2 separate regions of the Homo sapiens genome follow, and region 2 is linked to region 1. The links come from fine-mapping of genetic effects on plasma protein levels. A gene starts in region 1. The other region holds a variant in brackets. All regions are shown on one strand. Distances are between the middles of the regions. Region 1 holds the start of ADA (adenosine deaminase). Region 2 overlaps ADA (adenosine deaminase).

Evidence for each region. PIP is the chance, under the fine-mapping model, that this variant and not a neighbour inherited with it causes the effect. Protein levels are from antibody-based Olink assays in UK Biobank. Linkage for the fine-mapping came from a reference panel and not from the study's own genotypes, which makes the PIPs less certain.
Region 2: its variant is fine-mapped to the plasma level of the ADA protein (UK Biobank, PIP above 0.99).

Annotation. Positions count from the first base shown.
Region 1 is chr20:44,643,347-44,658,662 of GRCh38, reverse strand. It overlaps ADA (adenosine deaminase), which reads left to right and starts at 6,964. Exons shown (of 12, transcript NM_000022.4): 1 at 6,964-7,088. The coding sequence starts at 7,056. It overlaps LINC01260 (long intergenic non-protein coding RNA 1260), which reads left to right. Exons shown (of 5, transcript NR_034104.1): 5 at 1,612-2,212. RefSeq lists silencers at 6,766-7,155, 10,628-10,796, 12,673-12,752, enhancers at 6,192-7,175, 7,406-7,515, 10,105-10,605, 11,994-12,509, 12,443-12,542 and 4 more and cis regulatory regions at 11,354-11,949, 12,333-12,360, 13,049-13,607.
Region 2 is chr20:44,626,973-44,636,026 of GRCh38, reverse strand. ADA (adenosine deaminase) reads left to right here. Exons shown (of 12, transcript NM_000022.4): 3 at 6,858-6,980. Among named protein-coding and RNA genes, the nearest start is that of ADA, 20 kb to the left of the region's middle. RefSeq lists a cis regulatory region at 1,282-1,431 and enhancers at 1,549-1,878, 1-2,769, 5,286-6,035, 6,036-6,786, 1-7,023. The variant C/T (reference allele first, on the strand shown) is at 1,632.

The DNA of each region.
Region 1 (15,316 bases):
CCCAATTAGCTGGGATTACAGGTGTGCACCACCGTGCCCAGCTAATTTTTGTATTTTTAGTAGAAACGGGGTTTCACCATGTTCGTGAGGCTGGTCTCGAACTCCTGACCTTGTGATCGAACACCTCGACCTCCTAAAGTGTTGGGATTACAGGCATGAGCCACTGCAGTGGGCCTACTATCCTCTTCTTTAGTAACACAATCTCCTTTTTTTTAGCTGGGTACCTTGCCTTACAGGTATAAGACATTTCCTAGTTTCCTTTGCGATTAGATGTGGCCATGTGACTATATAAGCAGAATTTGTTGTGAGGAAAACCAGGTATCTAGATCTTTAAAAGACAGAAGTGGCCAGGCGTGGTGGCAGGCGCCTGTAGTCCCAGCTACTTGGGAGGCTGAGGCAGGAGAATGGCGTGAGCCCCGGAGGCAGAGCTTGCAGTGAGCCAAGATAGTGCCACTGCAGTCCAGCCTGGGCAAAAGAGTGAGACTCTGTCTCAAGAAAAAAAAAAAGAGAGACAAGCACTAGCTGCTGCATCCTTTCCTCAGCCCTGCTCTCTGGACTGCAGATGTGAAGGCTGGTGCCCCAGCAGCCATACTGCACAATGAGGATAGGGGCTGGATGCTAGGGATGGCAGAGCAGAGAGATAGAAGGAGGCATCTTCACAGAGTTGTCACATCAGTGGCATTGCCTGCCTCTGGCCTTTTTACACAACAGAGAAATAAACTTCTGTCTTTTTTCAGCCACTATTATTTGGGTGTTTTCTGTTGTGTGCAACTGATCCTAATCCTGTCTGATAAATGTGAGTGAAAGGGCAACCTGTCCCTTGTCCTCTTTCTTATTCAGAGATCTTAGAAGATCAGAATCAGCAGGGACCTTGGCTGTGTGGGGCAAAATCTGGCCCACAGATGTTTTCTTTGGCTTATACAAAGTTTTAAACATTAGGACACATTTGAATACAGTTTAAACATTAAAAGATGGGTCTCCGGCTTTTTTGGATGATTGGAGGATCTGGCAACACTGGATTTATGTTTCAGCACAGCAGCATCTTGACGAGGCATTTGCTCTCTCCTTTCCACAATCCCCACCTCTCCCATTGTGTGAGGATGTTCTTCTCCTCCTATGAGCGAGGCGTGTCTATGGTTTATCCTATTAATTAGTATGTATATGTTATCCCCACTACACAGATGAGAAAATCAAGGCTCAAAACAACTTTCCCAAAGCCACAGAGCTGTAAGTGGTGGAGCTGAGGCTCCTGATCATATACATTTTGATCTTGATTTTTATTTATTTATTTGAGACAGAGTCTCCCTCTGTGGCCCAGAGGGATTCTCATGCCTCAGCCTCCCGAGTAGCTGGGATTACGGGTGCATGCCACCATGCCCGGCTAATTTTTGTATTTTTAGTAGAGATGGGGTTTCACCATGTTGGCCAGGCTGGTCTCAAACTCCTGACCTCAGGTGATCCGCCCGCCTCGGCCTCCCAAAGTCCTGGGATGACAGGTGTGAGCCACTGCGCCTGGCCTGGAATAGATCTTGAACTAGATTTTTCAGGAGGGCTACATTGGAGGTAGAGAGACATTCTCAAACATACACAATCTCTGTTGTCTTCTCACAGGAGTGGCGTGCTGTGTGGATAATGAATATTGGGGAAGGCATCTCTCTCCAGCCCCTCTCAAGCTTTCTGTAGTCACTGGTCCACTCTGTATTGCTATGAAGAAGCTCAAGACCAGCCTGTATCACTCGGGGTCCTGGCAGGAACCAGGTGCCACACTCAAACTGAGTAATTGAAGAGGGTTTAATATGGGAGTTATTTACATAGGTGTGGGCTGGTGTAGCTGCCCATATGCCCTCAAAATCACCTCTACATGGCAATAGCTACTTACTGCTAACAGAGTCTCTCTCTCATTGCTGCAAATATTTTCTAGCCATGCAAGAAACTCAGCCGGTCATGTTGAACAAACTAAGAGTGCCAGGAAGTTAATGTCCTGGAAGCATTGCCAGAGGGGAGGGGGCAGTTAGATTCCCCAGCTTCCTCGCTCCTCTGCTGGGTTAAGCCTGCAACATATTCATCATCTCCCAGAGTGCTGCCCAGGGATAGAGCTCCAGGTGCTCAGTGTGGTGACCTGCTCATGTCAGCTTCTTCCCCTTTCCTGTCTTGTTTCGCACCCACATCCTTCCCATGTTTCCTCTTCCCAAATAAACTACTTGCATTGAAATCTTTGTCTCAGGCTCTGCTTCTGGGGAAACCTGAACCTAGCGAGGAGAGTTTAAGGAAAGCAACAACGGGTGGCGTGGGACTCTGGTAACAAAGGGAACCACTGCCTTTCAAGAAAACGGCAGGAGGCCAGGCACGGTAGCTCATGCCTGTAACGCCAACACTTTGGGAGGCCAAGGTGGGTGGATTATTTGAGGTCAGGAGTTCAAGACCAGCCTGGCCAACATGGTAAAACCAAGTTTCTACTAAAAATACAAAAATTAGCCGGGCATAGTGGTGGGTGCCTGTAATTCCAGCTACTCCAGAGGCTGAGGCATGAGAATTGCTTGAGCCCAGGAGGTGGAGGTTGCAGTGAGCTGGGATTGCACCACTGCACTCCACCCTGGGCGACAGAGTGAGACTCTGTCTCAAAATCAATCAATCAATCAATAGGCAAGAGGGAATCTGGAATGGGGAGGGTATGGAGAGGTGGGCCAGGAGGACTGACAGGAGATGTGGCCTTGGTAGAGAGACACAGTCAGCCCAGTGACTGTGCACCGAGGGAAAGGGGGAATGAATATCCTGACCTCTCTCCTCTCATCTGCTGTTCTCCTGCTGGTGCTCCCTGTTGACAAAACCCAACCAGAGCCAGAGGGCAGGAGAGCCCATTGGTCTCACCCACAGCAGCATGGCTGCCGGACACAGAGGAGCAGAGCAGCGTGCAGAAGGGTGGAGAGTGCACCTGCAGGGGCAAACAGAAGAACTGCATCACGCAGCCTGGCCCTTTGGATCTGACCCATTTGGAATGCAGAATTTTGATAGTCTAGGATCTGGGTAAAGGGTTTTCCAGGTGTCAGGATGGAAGTGACTAAGGTGCAGAGGCTGGAGGGCTGGGGCAGGTAGAAGCAAGCATTCCTGTTACCTACTGCTGTGTGACAATCTCCCCCTAAAACACAATGGCTTAAAATAACATCCATTTCATTACATATCTCAATACTATAGGTCAGGAATTTGGGCTGGGCTTACTTGGGTAATTCTTCTGTCCCACATGGCATTGACCAAAGCCTGGTTTTCAGTGGGCAGCTGGGCTGGATGGCCCAACACAGCTTCGCTAACATGATTGCTGTCTTCGTAGGGATGGTGGAAGCCTGGGCTCAGTGGGACTGTCAACTGGAATGGCCATATGTGGACTCTCTTAGCATGATGGTCTCTTCTAGAAGCTTGGGTTCCCAGAGAGAATGTTCAAGAGGCCCCAAAGGACACCACAAAGCTTCTTTATGACCAAGGCTCGGAAATCCAGGAAGCTTGCTCCCATCACGCTCTATTACTCCAACAAGTCACTCAGGCCAGCCCAGGTCCAAGAGGAGGAAACCTAGACTCCATCTTGCAATGTGAAGAATTGCAAATAATTTGTGTCACCCTTAAGCAACCAGCAACTCATCTAGGTTGATTGGCATTTCAGCAATGTGGTGGGAAGTGGTGGGACTGATGTTGAAGAGGGACTTGAATGTCATGAGAGGCTGGGGAGGCAATAAGGTGGGGAGTGAAGTTTCTCGAGTCAGATTCAAATTTAAACCCCAGTTTTGCCACTTACAACCCATGAGCCAAGCAGGCTGTCTCTCTATCTGAACCTCAGTGTCCTCATCTGTAAAATGAGGAGAACACCTCCTACATCTGAGGATGACTGTAAAGATGAAATGGGATGGGTGCTTATAAAGTGCTTCCCAGTGTACCTGGCTCCAAACCTGTCTCAGTAAATGGCAGCCCCTATTATTGAACCCGAGTAACACAGAGAGCCAAGAAAGGATCTTACAAAAAACTCCCCTGGCTTTGACAATGTATGAGACCCACTGATAGGGTTTGGCTTTGTGTCCTCACCCAAATCTCATCTAGTAGCTCCCATAATTCCTACATGTTGTGGGAGAGACTCGGCGGGAGATAATTGAATCATGGGGGATGGTCTTTCCCATGCTGTTCTTGTGATAGTAAATAAGTCTCACAAGATCTGATGGTTTTAAAAATGGGAGTTTCCCTGCAGGCGCTCTCTCTTTGTCTACTGCCATCCATGTAAGACGTGACTTGCTCCTCCTTTGCCTTCTGCCATGATTGCAAGGCCTCCCCACCATTGTGGAACTGTAAGTCTATTAAAGCCTCTTTCTTTTGTAAATTACCCAGTCTCAGGTATGTCTTTTTTTTTTTTTTCATGAGATGGAGTTTCGCTCTTGTTGCCCAGGCTGGAATGCAATGGTGTAATCTTGGCTCACCACAACCTCCACCTCCCAGGTTCAAGCGATTCTCCTGCCTCAGCCTCCCGAGTAGCTGGGATTACAGTCATACACCACCACGCCTGGCTAATTTTGTATTTTTTTTTTTTTTTTTAGTAGAGACGGGGTTTCACCATGTTGGTCAGGCTGGTCTCAAACTCCCGACCTCAGGTGATCCTCCTGCCTTGGCCTCCCAAAGTCCTGGGATTACAGGCATGAACCACTGCGCCCAGGCTCGGGTATGTCTTCATCAGTAGCATGAAAATAATGGACTAATACAGCCACCCTCTCCCTCACTCCCACATACAACCAAACCCCAAATCCAGCTGATTTTACACCCTAAATGCAGCTTGAATATGAGTTTCTCCACTTCCCCCACTGACATCACTATGCCCTACCCAGACCATGGCAGTTGCCTCCTTCCTGGTATCCTGTCCTCCCTCACCCCCGCTGGCCCCCTGTAATGCCCTCCCCTCACAGCAGGGAGCCCAGGCTTCTCAAAGTGCCCTGTGGGTGCGAACCACCTGGGGGTCCTGTTTGTATAAAATACAGATTCTACTTCAGTAGGTCTGGGATGGGGTCTGAAAGTCTGCATTTGTAGTCAGCTCCCAGGTGATGTGGGTGCTGATGATCCCTGGATCACACTTTCAGTAGCTGGAGAATATTTTTTCCAAATAAAAGGGTGATTTTGTCTCGCCTCCACTTAAAACACTCCACTGACTTCCTAGGAATCCCACACCATCGCTGGGTCCCACATCCCTGGCAGGATTCAGCTCCCATCAGACCTTCTAGCCCCTTGCTCTCCACTCTCCCACTCTCTCTTTCCCCCTTGTTTATGGGTTTGTTAATTTATTTATGATGAAATGAAATGAAGCTACCATCCACCCCAGTACTGGAACATTATCAATAACCTGTGTGTGGCCAGGCGTGGTGGCTCATGCCTGTAATCACGCCTTGGGAAGCCGAGGTGGGTGGATCATGTGAGGTCAGGTGTTCGAGACCAGCCTGGCCAACATGGTGAAACCCCGTCTCTACTACAAATCCAAAACTTAGCAGGGCACGGTGCCACGCGCCTGTAATCCCAGCTACTCGGGACGCTGAGGCCGAGAACTGCTTAAAATCCAGGAGGTGGAGGTTGCAGTGAGCCGAGATTTCGCCACTGCACTCCAGCCTGGGCGACAGAGCAAGAGTCCATCTCAAAAAAACAAAAACAAAAACAAAAAAACAAAAAACAAAAATTAGCCAGGCGTGGTTGTGGGCGCCTATAATCCCAGCTACTCGGGAGGCTGAGACAGGAAAATCGCTTGAAACGCTGGGGGTGCGGGGGAGCGGTGGGGAGGAGGCGGGCCAGAGGGGCAGAGGTTGCAGTGAGCCCAGATCGCGCCACTTCACTGCAGCCTCCGCGAAAGAGCGAAACTCCGTCTCAGTAAATAAATAAATAAATAAATAAATAAATAAATAAATAAATAAATAACCTGTACCCGCGTGTTATTTCCCTCCGTCCTTACCTCCTCCCGGCTCCTTCCCTTTCACCTGAGATAACCACTCTTCTCGTATCTATGCTCATCTTTCCCTTGCTTTACATTTTTTCCACCGATGCATGTGTCTAAACATACATACTTTTGGTTTTGCTTTTACACATTCTAAAAGTTGCACCATTGTATGCAGTTTTCCGCAACTTAGTTTTTTTCACTCAACATTGTTTCTGAGACATTGTTTCTGTTGTTGTCTGGCTGAAGTTCATTCCGTTTCACTGCTGTCTAACGTTTCATGGTGTGAATATTCCGGTTTATTTGCCCACTCGCCCGTGGAGGGGCATTTGAGGGTGTTTCCAATGTTCCTGTTATTCGGAATAGCGCTGGTGTGAACATTCTGCACAGGTCTCTGGCTGCGCCTGGGCGGGTTTCTTAAAGGTGAATGCCCAGGAGGGGACTGTCTGTGTTCTCCCTCCCTCCGAGCTCCAGCCTTCCTCGCCTCCTTTCACTCCCAGCTCCCTGGAGTCTCTCACGTAGAATGTCCTCTCCACCCCCACCCACCCCTGATGAACTCCTGCAGGTTCTGCAGGCCACGGCTGGCCCCCCTCGAAAGTTCCTTAACTATACAATTATGGTGTGTGTTTCTGCGACGAGCGTCCGTCTATCCGGTGGAAGGCACGCCGCTCGAGGCTTGCGATGCTCCCGGGGTCCCCGCTTCTAGCTTGGGCCTGGCGCACAGCAGCGCCCAGACTGCAGGGGGACGCTTGAAAGTTGCTGGAGGAGCCGGGGGGAAGGCAGCGCCCAGCGAGGCGGCTGGAGCGCGCGCCCACAGGTGGGTCCGGTCGGGCGCCGCGGGGCCGTAGTTTTCGGGTCGGCGGGCGAGGACGCCGGGTCCAGAATTCCAGGAAATGCGCGATCCAGGCCGGCGGGCGGGGCGGGGGCTCCGGCGAGAGGGCGGGCCCCGGGAACGGCGGCGGGCGGGGCGGGAGGCGGGGCCCGGCCCGTTAAGAAGAGCGTGGCCGGCCGCGGCCACCGCTGGCCCCAGGGAAAGCCGAGCGGCCACCGAGCCGGCAGAGACCCACCGAGCGGCGGCGGAGGGAGCAGCGCCGGGGCGCACGAGGGCACCATGGCCCAGACGCCCGCCTTCGACAAGCCCAAAGTGAGCGCGCGCGGGGGCTCCGGGGACGGGGGTCCGGCGCCTGGGCGGCCCGAGGGGCTTAGCGGGGCCCAGCCCGGGGCGTCCAAACCCTGGGAACGAACGGGGGCTCCTGCAGGCGAGTTCTTCCTTCGGCTTAGGCCGTGGCTTGCTTGCGGGCTAATCAGGGACAATGGGGCAGAGAAGGTCCAGAACCCGGAGGCCTCCAGAGTCTGCTTCTGCCCCTGACTTGACCCCTCTGGGTCTCAGTTTCGCTGTCTGTCAAGTGGGCATCCTAGCACCGCTGAGCGCTGTGTGGGCCTGGGCAGGGACTTGAGGTCTCTGAAGCTCAGCTGTATGATCAGGCCCGATGTCTACGCCGGATAGGCACCTAGTGCTGTGCCCGGCGCCTACTGAGTGCTCAGTGAATGGAAGCAGCTTTGTACGCCAGCGTTATGGTGGTGAGCGCCAAGGAGCTCAGGTTTGTGGATGCGCCCCGGGGAAGAACCGTGAGCCCTGCCAGAAAGGGGAGGGAGGGGAGCAGAGCACCCCCCTTCCCCCGCGCGGGAAGAACAGGAGCTAGGTAGGCCCTGGGTTTGGGGCCCTAGCAGGGTTCACTCGAGGCCAAGCCATGGCCACTGGCCCCAGGGGAGAATCCCCTTGTTTCTCCGCCCACCAGCTGTGGCGTCTTGGGACTGTTGGGGTCAGGGAGGGTCTGGACCCCCTTGGCCTGTCGCAGAGTCCGAGAGGAGGGGCCCAGGAGTCTGCCAAGCAGGGTGAGTCAGCCAGTAGGGTGTGAGAGTGGTTGGGGAAGGAGTCAGCTGCAGTCAGCCTCAACTTACCCTTCTAAGAAATAGGTGTGAGTGGCCCAGGAGGTTGGCTCACGCCTGTAATCCCAGCACTTTGTGAGGCTGAGGCGGGAGGATCATTTGAGTCCAGGAGTTTGAGACTAGCCTGGACAACAAAACTAGACCCCGTCTCTCCAAAAAATAAAAAAAGTTAGGGGAAGTGTGTGTGGTGGTGCACTCCCGTAGTCCCAGCTACTCAGGAGGCTGAGGCGGGAGGATCGCTTGAGCCCAGGAGGTTGAGGCTGCAGTGAGGTGTGATGGTGCCACTGCACTTCAGCCTGGGAGACAGAGCGAGACCCTGTCTCAAAAAAAAGAGAAGAAAAAGAAAAGAAAAGAAATAGGTGTGAATGATGATGACAGCTATCACAAAAGTGCCGGTGAGAATCCAGTGAGTGTGCATGTGTCAGTGAGGGAGACAGGCTGTGGAGAGCCCACCTACCTTCTGAGGAGGGTGAGGCCTGGCCCCCACTACTGATGCCCCCAGCCCAGGGAAAATGCTCAGCTACTCCCCGTCAGAAGCTGGAAGCACTGAGGTGCTGTACAAGCCCTCCTACCCCCACCCCTGCCTCCTTCACGTCTTACTGGAGCTGGGGCCCATGATTGGCGCCTCCCCTTTGCAGTCTTTTTATTAAATGCTCTGGGCTCCCTCTGCCCTTGGGCTGGGGACCCACTGTACCCTGATGTGAATCCTATGGCAATAGCAAAGCTCTTTGATTGGCGGGGTGCAGTGGCTCACGCCTATAATCCCAGCACTTTGGGAGGCAAAGGTGGGTGGATCATGAGGCCAGGAGTTCGAGACCAGCCTGGCCAACATGGCAAAACCCCATTTCTACTAAAAATATAAAAAATTAGCTGGGCATGGTGGCGGGCGCCTGTAGTCCCAGCTACGCAGAAGGCTGAGGCAGGAGAATGGCATAAACCCAGGAGGTGGAGCTTGCAGTGAGCCGAGATCTCGCCATTGCACTCCAGCCTGGGTGACAGAGTGAGACGCTGTCTCAAAAAAAAAAAAAAAAAAAAAAAGGCTCCTTGATTGCGAACATGTTGGGAGTTATGGAGAGAACAGCAGGGCCCACTTCTAGAGCACTTGTTGCAGACACCCATTGGATCCTTGCAGTTCTTCTGTAACAGCCCATCAAGGGAGGGGCTCATATTATTATCCCCATTTTTTGGCCTTGCTCAGTCCTCCCATCTGATTCAAGCTGGCAGATCATTTTCCCTATTGGGACCTCAGTGTCCACACCTGGAGGATGGAACATCAGCTGCTTATGTGGGTGTCCCGTGTCCTGAGTCCCAAGGCCACAAGGTGATGCTTGAGAGTGAAGGTAGAATGTTACCTGCCATGTGTTTGAGGCGTGACAAATCTTGTATGATTGTGAGGAGGAACTTGTGTGAGCTGGCAGGAGAAGTGGGAAGGAGTGTGAATCTCAGAGCCACTGTGACCAGAGCCAGCTCCCTGCCCTCTTGTGGGAGGGACAGATGACAGTTATAATTATTAGCATTACTAGCTGCAGCTAATGGAGTGTTGATGTTTCTGTGCCAGGCACCGTTCTAAACACATTATCTGCATTTTTTATTTAATCCAGGCACAGAGAGGTTAACTAGGCCCAAGATCACACAGCTAGGAAATGTCCAATCTGGGGTTTGAGTCCAAGGGAGGCTGGCTTCGAAATCCCATGCCTCTAACCATCTTTCCTAAACTACCTCTGCAGAAGCCTTTGGGGATAGAGGTGCCAGTGCCCCAGGTGCAAACCTCCTGAGACAGGAGCCTTTGCTGTGTCCTTCAGCTTCTCATACCTGCCACCAGCTGAGGCCTGGGACCTGGTCAGCTAGAAGAAAGCAGAGCAGGGCAGCGCTTTTCAAACTGCACTCAAGTGGCCTGACTTTTAATGTTCACACTGTGATTCTGTGTGGGTCGGGTTGGGGCCTGCGATGCTGCACTGCTGACCAGCTCCCAGGAAATGCTAATGTCAACGATCCAGGAACACACTTTGCTTAGCAAGGCCCTAGGCAGCTGCCTTCTGTTGTGCGGGACCCCTATTGACTCCAATGGATATAGCACCAGGTTCAAGAGGCTACCTTCTTTGGAAGAGGTAGCAAACAAGATACGGGGTTTTACTGGGGGCTTAGACACAGGGAAGAGAGTCCAGTGGCGGCAGACTGAGCAGAAGAACCGCAACCACTTGCAAATCATGCAGTTTATGTAGCATTTTCATTTAACACCTTCTCCCAACCATCTCCACCTAGTAACCTTCATTTAACCCAAAACAAAGGGCCTCGGTCCCTATACCCCTGTATGGTCAGTGTCCCGTGGGAATGGGGTGGGGCTCAGATGTTCCTCATAGATAACGACTGGATCTCCAGGTTGGCCACTCTTGGATTCCTTCGCTCAGAACTCTGAACACCCATTCAAGTGTGCCTGCCATGCAGGGTCATCGTCAGGGGATGCCCAAGTCAAGTTTGCCCTGTCGGGTGTGCCTCCCATACCCCCACCTGGTTTGACTTAGCACCTGCTGGGCACTGGAAGAAGTGGAAAGGGGGGTTGCAGGGGTGGCCCTTATCAGCCTATGTTCACAGGTGGCACCAGGCACTCAGGCATTCTGCATCCTGGAGGCCAGTGCTGATCACATGCCTGTTACAATAATCATAACAATAGCTGTCCTTGAAGTAGTCCTGGGTACCAGGTGCCTTCAGTGACTTTTTCTTTTTTGCCAGAATCTCACTCTGTCGCCCAAGCTGGAGTGCAGTGGCAAGATTTTGGGTCCCTGCAACCTCTGCCTCCTGGGTTCATGCGATCCTCCTGCCTCAGCCTCCCAAGTAGCTGGGACTACAGGCGTGTGCCGCAGTCTCACTCTGTTGCCCAGGCTGGAGTGCAGTGGTGTGATCCTGGCTCACTACAACCTCCACCTCCCGAGTTCAAGCCATTCTTCTGCCTCAGCCTCCGGAGTAGCTGGGATTACAGGCGTCCACCACCACGCCCGGCTAATTTTTGTATTTTTAGTAGAGACAGGGTTTCACCACGTTAGCCAGCTGGTCTCGAACTCCTGATCTCAGGTGATCCTCCCACCTTGGCTTCCCAAAGCGCTGGGATTACAGGTGTGAGCCACTGTGCCCGGCTAGTAACTTTTATCTCACGGAATCCTCTGGACGACTTGACAAGGCATGGGTCTTCATCCCCATTTACAGATGAAGAAACTGAAGCTTAGGGAGTGGAGGGACTTGCCAGGGCTACACAAAATCTGAGAGCCTTGAAGCTGTAGACTGGCAAGTGAACAGGTACAGGCTGGGACAGCAGTTTCTTTCTTTTTTTCTTTTTTTAGACAGAGTTTCGCTCTTGTTGCCCAGGCTGGAGTGCAATGGCACGACCTCGGCTCACTGCAACCTTCGCCTCCCAGGTTCAAGTGATTCTTCTGCCTCAGCCTCCCAAGTAGCTGGAATTACAGGCATGCACCACCATGCCCGGCTAATTTTTTGTATTTTTAGTAGAGACGGGGTTTCTCCTTGTTGGCCAGGCTGGTCTCGAACTCCCGACTTCAGGTGATCCGCCCACCTCAGCCTCCCAAAGTGCCGGGATTACAGGCATGAGCCACCGCACCCGGCCAAGGGACAGCAGTTTCTAAACTGTCCCTCTCTGATGCAGAGGGGAATTGGGGCTAAATCAGCAATGTGCCTTTTCTGTCTCATATTTGAATGTCTACTCTGCACGAGGCGCTGTCCTGCTTTGCATACAGTGACTCATTTAATGTTTATGTCAGCCCTCTGAGGAAGGTCCTGTCCTATTATTAACTTCACTTATTATGAGGAAACTGAGACTCAGAGAGGGGAGGGAACTTGCCAAAGTCACACAGCTGGCAAGCAGCAGAGCTAGACTTGAACCCAGATCTGCCTGCACTCAAGTAGAAGCTGTTCATTGCTTTGCTCATTTGCCAATTCCACTTTATGCAAAAAAGAGGGGGCAGTGTGGGGGGAAGAGTTAGAATCAGGGTGGCAGGGTGGGCCAGTGCATTAGCCCTGGGCTTCAGATGTACTGGGGTTGAATTCCTGCCTGCCGCTTAGCAGCTAGGGTACCTCAGGTAGACAACTCCTGAAACTCAGCTTCCCCCTCTGTAAAATGGGGTGACAAAACCAAGATCTTGGGGTTCTTGGGGAAACTGACATGCTGATTGGTTTTTGTACAGTGCCTGGCTGGTAACAGCAGGCCCTCAGGGGTGCGTTTCCTTCCTGGGGACTGGAGTGGGGGTTGCAGTAGACTCTGGGAGGCCTCTCCAGCTGCAGAATCTCCCTCCTCCCTCCTCCTTTTTGTCTTCCTGACACAAAACCCACCAGCTGCACTTCTTTGGGCTTGCAGTGGCTTTCAGTTACCAGAGCCACCTGTTAAAACAAAAATGTGCCTAGGAAGAGCCTGCCTTACCCATTTTGACTCACATGGCAGTTGGTGGTGGAGGGGAACAAAGGAGACTGAGTTTCATCGAAGCCTTTTGCTTCGGAGGAGGAAGGGAGGATCAGAGAGAGGAAGTGGTCTGTGTTCACACAGGGAGGCAGGGGAGGCCAGGCAGCTTCCCAATCCTGCATTCAACCTCAGGGTGGGCTTGACCTGGGTGGCTGGGGGCCCTGTGATCCAGGAGAGACTTGTCCACCTGCTCAGGTGTCTTGAAGGGGTCCCTGTGGTACCCCCTGGGGCGGGGCAAGGTAGTAGGACCATGGTCTGGCTGGGGAGGTGGAGAGGAGCAGGCTGTGGGCGCAGAGTGAGGTTGGAATCTGTATTTACCCAAGGTGTTGGGGGTAGGCTTGCCCTCAGCCCTTAATGTTCTCAGGCCCCTGAGCAGTTGTGGGGGATAACCTCTGCACTCCTAGTGACCAGGGAGCTAGAACAGCAAGGAATTTGAACTTGGACACCAGCTGGGGTCAGGCTCTCTGGGTCTGAGTCCTGATTTCCCACTTTCCAGCTAGAGGAGCTTGAATGAGTCATTTAACTTCACGGTGCCTCAGTTTCCCCTCTCTAAAATGAGAATTATACCCATACCCACCTCTCAAACACCAAGTGCAGGCCTGGCTCAGAGCAGGTGCTGCAGCAATAGCTGCCATTGGTCAGCATCATCATCATGGTTGGTAATGGTCCTACTTTGACTTTTGAGACAGAGTCTCACTCTGTCGCCCAGGCTGGAGTGCAGTGGTGCAATCTCGGCTCACTACAACCTCTGCCTCCCGGGTTCAAGTGATTCTTCTGCCTCAGTCTCCCAAGTAGTTGGGATTACAGGTGTGCGCCACCATGCCTGGCTAATTTTTGTGTTTTTAGTAGAGACAGGGTTTCACCATGTTGGCCATAACAATGGCTGTCCTTGAAGTAGTCCTGGGTACCAGGTGACTTCAGTGACTTTTTTTTTTTTTTTTTTTTTGAGCTGGAGTCTTCCTCTGTCACCCAAGCTGGAGTGCAGTGGCACGATTTTGGCTCACTGCAACCTCTGCCTCCTGGGTTCATGCGATCCTCCTGCCTCAGCCTCCCAAGTAGCTGGGACTTGGGATACACTTGCCCCCGCTGGTCCTCCCTTCCACCTCTGTGAAGAGGAGGTCTCAAACTCCTGGCCTCAAGTGATCCACCCACCTCAGCCTCCCAAAGTGCTGGGATTTCAAGAGTGAGCCACCGCACCTGGCCCCTGTTTAGATGTTAGCATCAGTGACCCAGCACCTTGCTATGTGGCATGCAGGGAGCGTGCTGCTAGACCTCCGGGTTTAGAGTCAAATAGCTTCCTGGCTGTGGTATGCATTAGACTTTCTAACTCAAGGTCCTCCCACTCTCTGAGCCTCAGTCTTGTTGCCTTTAAAACGAGTTTAAGTGTGCTGAGTCCCTATGCTGTGGCTCCACAGGAATTTCCCCAGGTGGAAGACACATCTTGCCTTCTGTGAAACCTCTCAGCAGCAGAGCTGTCAGGCCCCGTCAGCAGGAGACACTGTGGGGACTGCTCAGTCCCTTCCACTGTGTACCTCGGAGCTGGCGGAGCCTAGATGAGGCTGAGCATAGAGGGCTTCCTGGAGGAAGTGGAGCTGAAACAGTTTCTCAGCCCAGGGCTGCTCTGTCTCCTGGCCTCACACTAAAAGTCAGTTGAGAGGCCATAGTGGCATAAGTCACTGACCCTGGCACTGCCCAGCTCATCACCAAAAGCAGGGCTAGGGAGGGAGGGGACATTCGATTGGCAGTGGGCACCTGTGGCTCATCTGGGTTCTGGCCACGGTGCTCAGGTTCTGTGAGCTGACCAGGCAGCCCTGGCTCCTCTGCCCCCGTGTGGGTTCTGCCAGGTCCCATGGGGGCAGGTCAGCCCCTTCCTTGTTGCAGGGAGAGCACCCAGCATTGCTGACATGGGACAGGGAAACGAGGAAATAACGGTGTGGTCATTGAACACAGAGAGCACTAGGTGCTGTGCGAGGTGCTGAGGACACGACATGATGACACAGACAAGGTCCCCCCTCTCAGCAAACGGCTCATGAGGGAGACAGACATGTTACATACATGAACCCAAAAAGTCAGACGAAAACAAAACAGAGCGATGTGTTTGGGAGGCAAACCCAACTGCCGGAGGCGAGCAGGGCGTCTACCTCCAAGGTAAACCCAGTCAGATTAGTTGTCCCCAAGGCTCACCAGGGAGAACTAATCTGACTAGGTTTGCCTTGGAGGTAGACGGCCCTGCTCGCCCTCCAGCAGTTGGGAACGTGGAAACATGAGTCAGATCTGGGAGTATCTGTCCCAGGAGTCCAAGACCTGGGTCCTCATGGTAGCTCTGCCACCGACACACTGAGTGACCTTGGGTAAGTGAACCCACCGCCCTGGACCTCTCTGGCACGCATCTCTTGAGAGCAGGGACTTAGTGCATTTCCCGAGGGCCTCCACGGTGCCTGGCACATAGTGGGGCTTAGTAAATATTTGTTGGTAACTGAGGATGCTTCCTGTTCACATCAGCGCTGGGAGGATTTCCTGCTGTTCAGACAAATGCTGGGCTGGCTGTGAGTCAGCCTTGCAGAGAGCAAAGGCAGTGGGAAGGGGCGTGAGATTCCCCTCTGGAGAGGTCAGGAGGCCAGGCACTGTCTCGACATGAGTGCCAGGGAGGGGGTGTGGCCTGTGGGCAGGGCTTGGGCTGAGGCAGAGGGACTTGAGTTCCACCCTAGCTCTACCACCATCAATTTTGTGTAACTCTGGACAGGCCACTGAACTTCTCCGGGCTTAGCCTGGCAAGTCCATTTCCCCATCTGTAACATGGGCCGATATGTACATTGCCTAGGGATTAAATGAGATAAAGGGTCTGAAAACAGTAGGTAGCTGCTTTATCATTATTATTATTTCTGTATTATTGATGTCTGAGGCTAGGCCCACAGAGGCAGTACAGTAGAGTGGTTAGGAGCTCAAGAATCAGACTA
Region 2 (9,054 bases), 20 kb after region 1:
CTTTCTGGGCCTCTGAGTCTTGTCCTCCTGGTGTCAGGTGAGCCAGGCCTGAGCCTGCTCTCCCCACCCACCCACATACGTGCATGAAGGTAGTTCCCAGGGCTGAATCCGTCTTTTTTTTTTTCTTTTGAGATAGAGTCTTGCTCTGTCGCCCAGGCTGGAGTGCAGTGGCATGATCTCGGCTCACTGCAACCTCCACCTCCTGGGTTCAAGTGATTCTCCTGCCTCAGCCTCCTGAGTAGCTGGGATTACAAGCACATGCCACCACATCCAGCTAATTTTTGTATTTTTAGCGGAGATGGGGTTTCACATGTTGGCCAGGCTGGTCTCGAACTCCTGACCTCAAGTGATCCACCCAGCTTGGCCTCCCACAGTGCTGGGATTACAGGCATGAGCCACTGTGCCTGGCTCCTGTCTTTTGACTTAACTGAGAGCCTATATATAGCAGGTGATGTGCTCACATGAGATGCCAGTACAATTTCTTGAGCATCTCCTAGAGCTGGGCTGGGCTTTATCAGCTCATTGAATTCCTCCACGCTTGGAAGAGGAGGATACGCTCTCTGCATTTTACTGAGGAGGGAATGGGCTCAGCCAAGACAGTTGTCCACGGTCACACAAATTAATAGCAGATCAAGAGTTGAACCCAAGGCTGTCTGACCCCTAAGGCTTTACTACATCATCAGGGTCATAACCTGCTAGGAGTCACGGAAAAGTGGCTCCCCAACTCTGGGCCTAAATCTCTGCATCTTCCAAGTGAGAACACACTTCCTGCCTCAGCTCTCAGAGATGCTAGGGGGCCAGAGGGTCCCCCTGTTCCCCAGCGAGGAAGGTTCTTCCCTTCCTACCCAGACCTCAAGGGCTCACAGCAGCTCCTCTCTTAGGACCAGCTTTTAAGGGCAGGGACTTTAAAGGCCAGTGGATCTGGATTCAAATTTGGACATATTATCTCCTGTCTGCGAACTTGGTCTCTATCAACTGAGGCTAAGAACAGGCCCTCCCTAGAGAGATGACCTAGGAGCTAGGGGCTCCTTGTCCACCCAGCCCTGCCCCCGCAGACCTGTGTTCCTCGGATGTTTGCACAACACTCATTTTGTTTGGAGCTGAAAGAACTCAGCCTCTCTGTCACAGTCTTGAAATTCAGCTCGGGACCCAAATTTGAACATTTCTGCTCCATAAGCCAGAATCCTGTTATTCAGAGGCCTGCCCTCATGGAGAGAATGAGGGATCCCGGGGGGTTGCCCCCAACTCTCGGGAGCATCTCCACCAACTCCCTGAGAGATTTCTGGTAAGTCCACTATTCTCCATCTTTTCGCACTTCCAGGGACCTTCTTCTGCCCCAGGAAGCTGCCATTGATTTAATTCCTATTTAACTGCAAGGCATAAGCACAGTAGCACCTCCTGTGTGCCAAACACTCCTTTAAGTGCGTTACCCGGGTTAAGTTATTGAAGCCTCACAACAATTTGTAAGATAGGAACTCTATTGCCGTCATTTACAGATGAGGAGACTGAGCCGTGGTAGGTGGAGTAAGGTGCCCAGTAAGCACAGGGCGGAGGTTTGAACCCAGATAGTCTGCCCCCGAGTCCATGGCCCTGGCCATTACCCCCTGTCAGTTAGAGGTTTTGGTAAGTGA[C/T]GCCCGTAAAATGCTTAGTTCAGGGCCTAGCACACATTAATGTGCTCCATAAATGTCACTTAATGATAATATTCTTATTAATTGGAGCTTATATCTCTAAGTGGGGTGAAACCTCTTGGCTTATCTCTGCCTGGCCTTTGCCCATGTCAAGCCGCCAACTTGCCACAAGGCCCCTAATGAGGTCGTTCAGTGGGGCACCAAGATGAGATCGAACCCAGGCACTCATTAAGGGGTCACGGAGGGCTCATCAGCTGCAGCCAGGGGCTGGGAGCGCCGGGTGGGGCTAAGAGAAAGGGGAAAGGAGCCGCCGGGAGGGGCACTGGTCTGATCGTCCATTCCTCACACCACCTCTGGGCCTTGGAGATGGCGTGCGGCAGGTGCCAGCTGGAGCTTGGCCTGAAGTCAGCAGGCAGGGGACTGGGGAGTTTGTCACACTCAGATATGGGTGTCTGTAAATGCACACAAATATGGGCTAAGAATGGAAGGAGGAGGGGAGCCCCTGGCCTGAGCCCTGCTAGGCCCAATTCAGTGGCCCTTTTTCCAGCTCTGGGACTCAGGCCTGCCTCATTAACTGTCCTCACCCATTTCTCCTTCCTCCAGTTCCCAGGATTCTGGCCTTTTCAGGGGCCTCTCCAACCTCTTTCTCAGTCTTGTTTATAACCCTGTCAACTATTTCTACAGAGATTCTGAAACTGGCTGCTCTTTCCTCCGATCACTGCCCTGGTCTGGGCCACCACTGCCCCTCCCTGGTGCTGTGGCCTCCTGATTGGTCTCAGCCATCTACTCTGGCCTTCCTCTCTACGGGCCCTGCAGTGCTGTAGTTGGAGCAAGAGCCTTAACCCATGGTCTTCCCAGCTCATTCCCCAGCTTCCCCATCTCACTCAGAGTCAAAGCCAAAGTCCACACATGGGCCTTAAAGTTCTGCAAAGCCTGCATTGCCTCTCTGACCTCTCTAAGGCTCCTTGCTTAGTCCACACTGGATGTTTTTCAAACATGCCAGACCTAGGAAACAGAGAGTCTGGGTTACTTGCCCAAGGTCACACAGCCTTTAAGTCACAGAGCTGGGATTCAAACCCAGACCACTGGGCTTCAGAGTCTGCTCTTTCTCATGACACACAAAGTTTCATTTCTTCCTCTGTGCACCCCTACATGGAAAATATTATGTTTTACTGACAAGGGCACCAAGGGCCTTAGAGGGGAGCGCTCCTGCCTGGGATGATGTGGTAAATAGGGGTGGGAGATGGACTTGACCTGCAACCCCTGAGCTCATCCTCCCTCCCTCCCTGGGCTCCTGATGGTGGGCTTCTTGTGACTGTGTTGCCCACCAAGGCCGGAAGAGGACCAGACAGTGCCCCAGCACAGCAGCTGTGGCTGACCAGGGAGTAGGGATCATCTAAGAACAGAGCGTGCATGGTGGCTCACGCCTGTAATCCCAGCACTTTGGGAGGCCAAGGCGGGTGGATCACCTGAGGTCAGGAGTTCAAGACCAGCGTGGCCAACATGGGGAAACCCCGTGTCTACTAAACATATAAAAAATTAGCCAGGCATGGTGGTGGGCATCTATAATCCCAGCTACTTGAGAGGCTGAGGCAGGAGAATCACTTGAACCAGGGAGGTGAAGGTTGCAGTGAGTCGAGGTCGTGCCATTGCACTCCAGCCTGGGCAACAAGAGCAAGACTCCGTCTCAAAAAAACAAAACAAAAGAAAAAACAGAGGGTGGCCCTATGAGGAGCCTTCGCTTGTGTGGGTGGCCAGGGACAGCAAGAGGTGCCAGGGCCCTAGGAACAGCTCTTTCCTGCTTCAACTTTGGGCTCCAGATGGGCGCTTTCCAGCTCAGTCTGAGCAGCTTCGGGAAGCTGTGTCCCATGGGAGACACTGGGAGTCCCCTGTGCTCTTTGTCTCCTGTCGGGCCCCCACATTAGCTCTCTGGCCTCAGCTCTGGCTTCCCTCCAATTTGTTTCCCACGCAGCAGCCAGAGGAGCTTTCAAAAAGGTAAATTATTTCATGCTAGTCCCCTGCTTGAAATCCTACAGTGCCTTCCCAGTGCTTTCAGCCAAAGCCCCAGTCCCTTCCTAAGCCCAGCCTGGCCCTGCCTCCCTGGTGCATCATCTGCACAAATGCCTGCTCTCTGACCTCCAGCCACCCTGCACTTCCAATGCCCGCGGCTTCCTGCCTGCAGCTTTAGTACAGACCCCTCCCCTGCCCAGAACTGCCCCCACCCCAAGGCTTCTGCTGAAATGTCACCTCCTCAGAGAGGCCTTCCCTGGCTGCTCTGTCTAAACTCTGTGTTGAGAAGTTCCTTCTTGATGGTTGTTGAGGAGGGAGGCTGGAGAAGAAGAATCGAAGAGGAGAAATAGAAAGCAAAATAATTTGTTCTAGGGGACGGGCTGGTGCTGGGCACGGGGAGGCGCCCGTCTCTGGTGTGGGCAGCTGGGTAGATGGAGGAGCCGTATTTGGAAATGTGGAACCCAGGAAGGGAGTGATCTAGAGGGAGGGGAAAGGTGGCGCGAGATGCCTGCCTCTCAACAGGTAGCCAGACACATGGGTCTGTCTTGGTCACTGCTATCTGCCCAGTGCCCAGCACATCACAGGCCCTCAGTGGTGGTGTATGGGCATAGAGAATTAGAAGCTGTGGACCTCTGGATCCGGAGCTGAAAACCACCAAAGGAGATGAGTTGGCCTGGCCAGGTGTGTAAAAGGCAGAGTCTGAGAGAGAACGACCAGAGGGCAGAGCCCCCGCAGGTGGAGTTCTGGGGGCTGGAGGGAGACCATTAGGAGAATCGCACATGGCTGGCGCAGCAGGTCCCAGGCAAATGTGGCCACTGGGTTTGGCAATATGGGAGCCAGAGCCCTAGTGTCATCTCCCTGCCTTCTACCCAGCAGTTCCCAGAGTGATATCCCCAACAGTGTTTGACAACTGGTACAGGCTCTTCAGCGGCCACAGTTACTGGGCAAGGCCTTGTGAGGGTGACTTTGGGGCAGCTGGCCAGCAGTGGGAGGGGAAGCAGTCTCAGGGGTACCTGAGGCACTGAGCTCCGACCTCCAGGTGCCAATGCCGCACCAGGGCACCGTTCCCCTGCAGGCTCTTACAGGGATTAGGGGCTGGTAAGGAGCAGTGATTAGGGGCTGACTAGCAGGCTGGTGGGCACCAGCATGACCCCTTGGTGGTACCCTCTGGGCACTCATGGGGACTTGGGCTAACAGATGGGGAAGGGAGCACATTCAGGGGGCTTAGGAAACATATTTATGTAGGGAAGCATTTTAATATTTTAGTAACAGAAGCTATTAAAGGACTTACAAACTTACTTACATACACTAAAACACTATTTGGTCAAACTTCTGTTTCTTTGGCACTTTCCTCCTTTATTCTTTTTTATTTTTTTGAGACAGGGTCTTGCTCTGTCACCCAAGCTGGAGTGCAGTGGTGCAATCTTGGCCCGCAGTAGCCTTGACTTCCAGGCTCAGGTGGTCCTCCCACCTTAGCCTCCCAAGTAGCTGGGACTACAGGTGCACGCCACCACGCCTGGTGAATTTTTGTTTTGAAGGGGTTTCACTGTGTTGCCCAGGCTGGTTTCAAACTCCTGGGCTTAAGTGATCCGCCAGCCTTGGCTTCCCAAAGTACTGTGATTACAGGTATGAGCCACTGCACCCGGCCTCCTATTTTTCTGCTTCTGCTTTGTGGATAATTGGATGCTTGGACCTCCTGATTTAATCTTCTAATTTCCTTAACTGTTTACTCCTATTTTTCATCATCTTGTCTTTTTGTTCTACTTTGTGGAGGATTTCTTCACTTTTAGCTTCCAGTTCTTTTCTTACATCGTGACAGTTGCTGCCGCATTCTCTTGTAAATTTCCGAGGGCTCGTTCTTGGGTTCTGAATGTTCCCTCCTTTCAAGGATCTTCTCATCTCTTTGAGGATATTCATGTCTTTTTTGTTTTGGTTCTTAGGTTTTCATCTGTTCTCTGTGCTGTTTCCTCGGAGTGCTTTTGTCTATTCTGTTGTTTTGTCCCTCATGTTAGAAGCATTTCTTTTTTTTTTCTTTTTTTTTTTGTGATACAGAGTCTTGCTCTGTCACCAGGCTGGAGTGCAGTAGCATGATCTCGGCTCACCACAGCCTCTGACTCCCTGGTTCAAGTGATTCTCCTGCCTCAGCCTCCTGAGTAGCTGGGATTACAGGCACACACCACCACACCCAACTAATTTTTGTATTTTTGGTAGAGACGGGGTTTCACCATGTTGGCCAGGATAGTCTCAATCTCCTGACCTCATGATCCTCGCACCTTGGCCTGGGAGGCCAAAGTGCTGGGATTACAGGCGTGAGCCACCATGCCCAGCCTAGAAGCATTTCTTAATGTCTGGTGTTCTCTGGCTGTTGTATCTTAAAAAAAAAAGGGGGGGGAAACTGAGGCTCGAGGTGACCTTGTGAGCTGGAGCAGAGCCGGGATGGGATGAGGAGGCAGGAGCGTGTGCAGAAGAGAGGGAGCCCCCCTGAGCTCGCACCCTGCTTCCCGTGGCTGGGAGGGGAGGCCGAGATGCTTGGGGAGAAATGGAGGCTCCAAGCCAGAGGGGCTGTTTCCAGCACGCTCTTACTGAGCGCTGCTGTAGTCCAGCTTGGTGTGGCGGCTGTGGGCAGGGAGGGGAGAGAGGTCTGAGCTGGCTGGCGGCCCACTGGGCCCCTCCCCTGAGCCTCCACCGGCCCTCTCCCAGTGCGCTGGGCTGGGCAAGCCTCTGATGTGCCAGCCAGATGGAGGGTGAAGTCCTGATGCCTGCCCCTACCCTGGGAATTGTGATGCTGCAGTTACTGCCCCTGATAACCCCTGACTGGGCATAGGACCAGCTGGCTGAGCCAGCTCCTGGGGCTGAGGAGGAAGCCATGAACTTGACCTGGCACTTTCCTTGTCTCCAAGCATCAGTCAACCAAGGATATGGAGGGGGTGTGTGCATGTGTGCACACATACACACACACACACACACACACTTCAACCTGTTTATCCCCCTTGAGATTTGCTGACTTGTGCATTGGGGGTAGAAGGTGCTGGAAAAATTCCGGTCCTGGTTCTCAGTTTCCCCATCTGTCCAGTGGGAGCAGCTGGACTGAGAGACGCCCATGTCTCCTGCTGTGGTCCTGCAAGGAGGCTGGCGCTCCTGAGTCTGCTCCATCCTGGCCTGTCAGGCCTGCCTGGATCCTGCCCCGGGTTGGTCCACCACTCACTGTTTTGTTTCCAGGAGGAGAGGGATCGCCCTCCCAGCTAACACAGCAGAGGGGCTGCTGAACGTCATTGGCATGGACAAGCCGCTCACCCTTCCAGACTTCCTGGCCAAGTTTGACTACTACATGCCTGCTATCGCGTGAGTTGCCCCCAACCCACAGGTCCTAGGGCAGCATTGATCCCTATGACTAGGACCAGGCCTGTCCCTCAGCCTGTGGGGGCCAGAGAAGTTGCTCTGAAACCACAGCTGTCTTTCTCACCATTGTGTACACTTAGTGAGTCTCTCCAGTGCCTTTAGGCCTCAGTTTTCCCTTCTGAGATGTGGGTGTGATGGACTGAAATTGCTTCAAGTTCTACAGAGAAATGGCAGAATATGGGAGCTAAGAACACAGGGTCAGAGGCAGTGCAGGGCTTGAACCCGGGCCATCTATCTCCTAGTTCAGGGCTTCGTGTTGTGAGGGGAGGAGAGGCCTGAATATAGGGTGGGGGCGGGGAGATGTGGGGAAGATTCTCCAAAAGGCTTTTTCTTTTTCTTGTCTTGAGTCGCCAGGGAACAGCACTAGGTACCGAAAAGGCCCAGAAGGGGTATGGGCGAGTACTAGAGAGAAATTTCCATGACTGCTTTATTTATTTATTTATTTATTTATTTATTTATTTATTGAGACAGAGTCTCACTCTGTTGCCCAGGCTGAAGTGCAGTGGTGCGATCTCAGCTCACTGCAACCTCCACCTCCCAGTTTAAGGGATTCTCCTGCTTTAGCCTCCCAAGTAGCTGGGATCACAGGCACCCACCATCACACCCAACTAATGGTTTTGTATTTTTAGTAGAGATGGGGTTTTACTATGTTTGCCAGGCTGGTCTCGAATTCCTGACCTCAGGTGATCTGCCCGCCTCGGCCTCCCAAAATGCTGGGATTACAGGCGTGAGCCACTGCGCCTGGCCTCCATCCTCATCCTGAAGATGCAAGAACTTCTGGTGACCCCTTCTCCTGAGAGTGGCCTGATCTCCCCTGGGCAGGGCACTTTCTTCCCACGCTGGGCTCTCCCAGCACTTGTGTGCCTTCCCTCACACATTCTAGTAACCACTTCATTTTCACTCTTCATGGTGGGAACTTCCAGCTAAGCACAGTCCACCGTTACGTGATCAACACAGTGGCCCTGGCAGGCCAATTTGTGCCTTGCTTCTGGAACAAACATGCAGTAATAACAACGAAAATGTTTTGAGCATTTGTCCGCTCTGCTCCAAGCACTGACCCGGGTGGGGTTTATGAAGTTTGACTCATTTGTCCCCGCAATAACTCCTTGACCTAGGTGTCAGAGGGTGACTAACCAGGGGTCACACAGCAGATAAGTGTGGGCACAAGGATCCAAGTCCATGACTGTATCCCACGTGTCTCCCACATCCAGGCATCCCTCTGGACTTGTCCAGCTGTGTCCTTTTCTCTCATTTCTCTTCCCTGCCAGCCTTAACTCCATCACCAACAAATATTGGGCTACTCTGTCCTAGGCATGGTCCTCAGCTGAGAGGTCGCAGCCATCCCAAGACAGAGGGGTCCTTGCCACATGGAGACTGCATTCTAGTAGGGAATACAGCAAACTGGCTGATAAGCCATATGACACACAATGTTGAGTAGTGATAAGGACCTGGGAGAAAAAGAAAGCCCAGGAGAATGGTGGAGGGGCCGTTTTAAGATAAGGCGGTCTGGGCCAGGTACAGTGGCTCACGCCTGTATCCCCAGCACTTTGGGAGGCTGAGGTGGGCGGATCATGAGGTCAGGAGATCGAGACCATCCTGGCTAACACAGCGAAACGCTGTCTCTACTAAAAATACAAAAAATTAGCCGGGCGTGGTGGCATGCGCCTGTAATCCCAGCTACTTGGGAGGCTGAGGCAGACGAATCACTTGAACCCAGGAGGCAGAGGCTGCAGTGAGCTGAGATGGCGCCACTGCACTCCAGCCTGGGCGACAGAGCAAGATTCTGTCTCAAAAAAAAAAAAAAAAGATAAGGTGGTCAGGGAAGGCCTCTCTGAGGAGGTGAAGCTTCAGCTGGCTCTAAACCAGGGGAGCGGGAGAGACGCAGTGTAGGACAGTATCGGGGAAGAGCAGGCCTGTGTCTTCTCCGGTGGCCTCAGGGAATGAGGGAGAAGGAAGGTGCTGGGGAGGCTGGCAAGGCCTGGAGGATGCAGGCCTTGTGGGCAGGACCTGGGAGTTG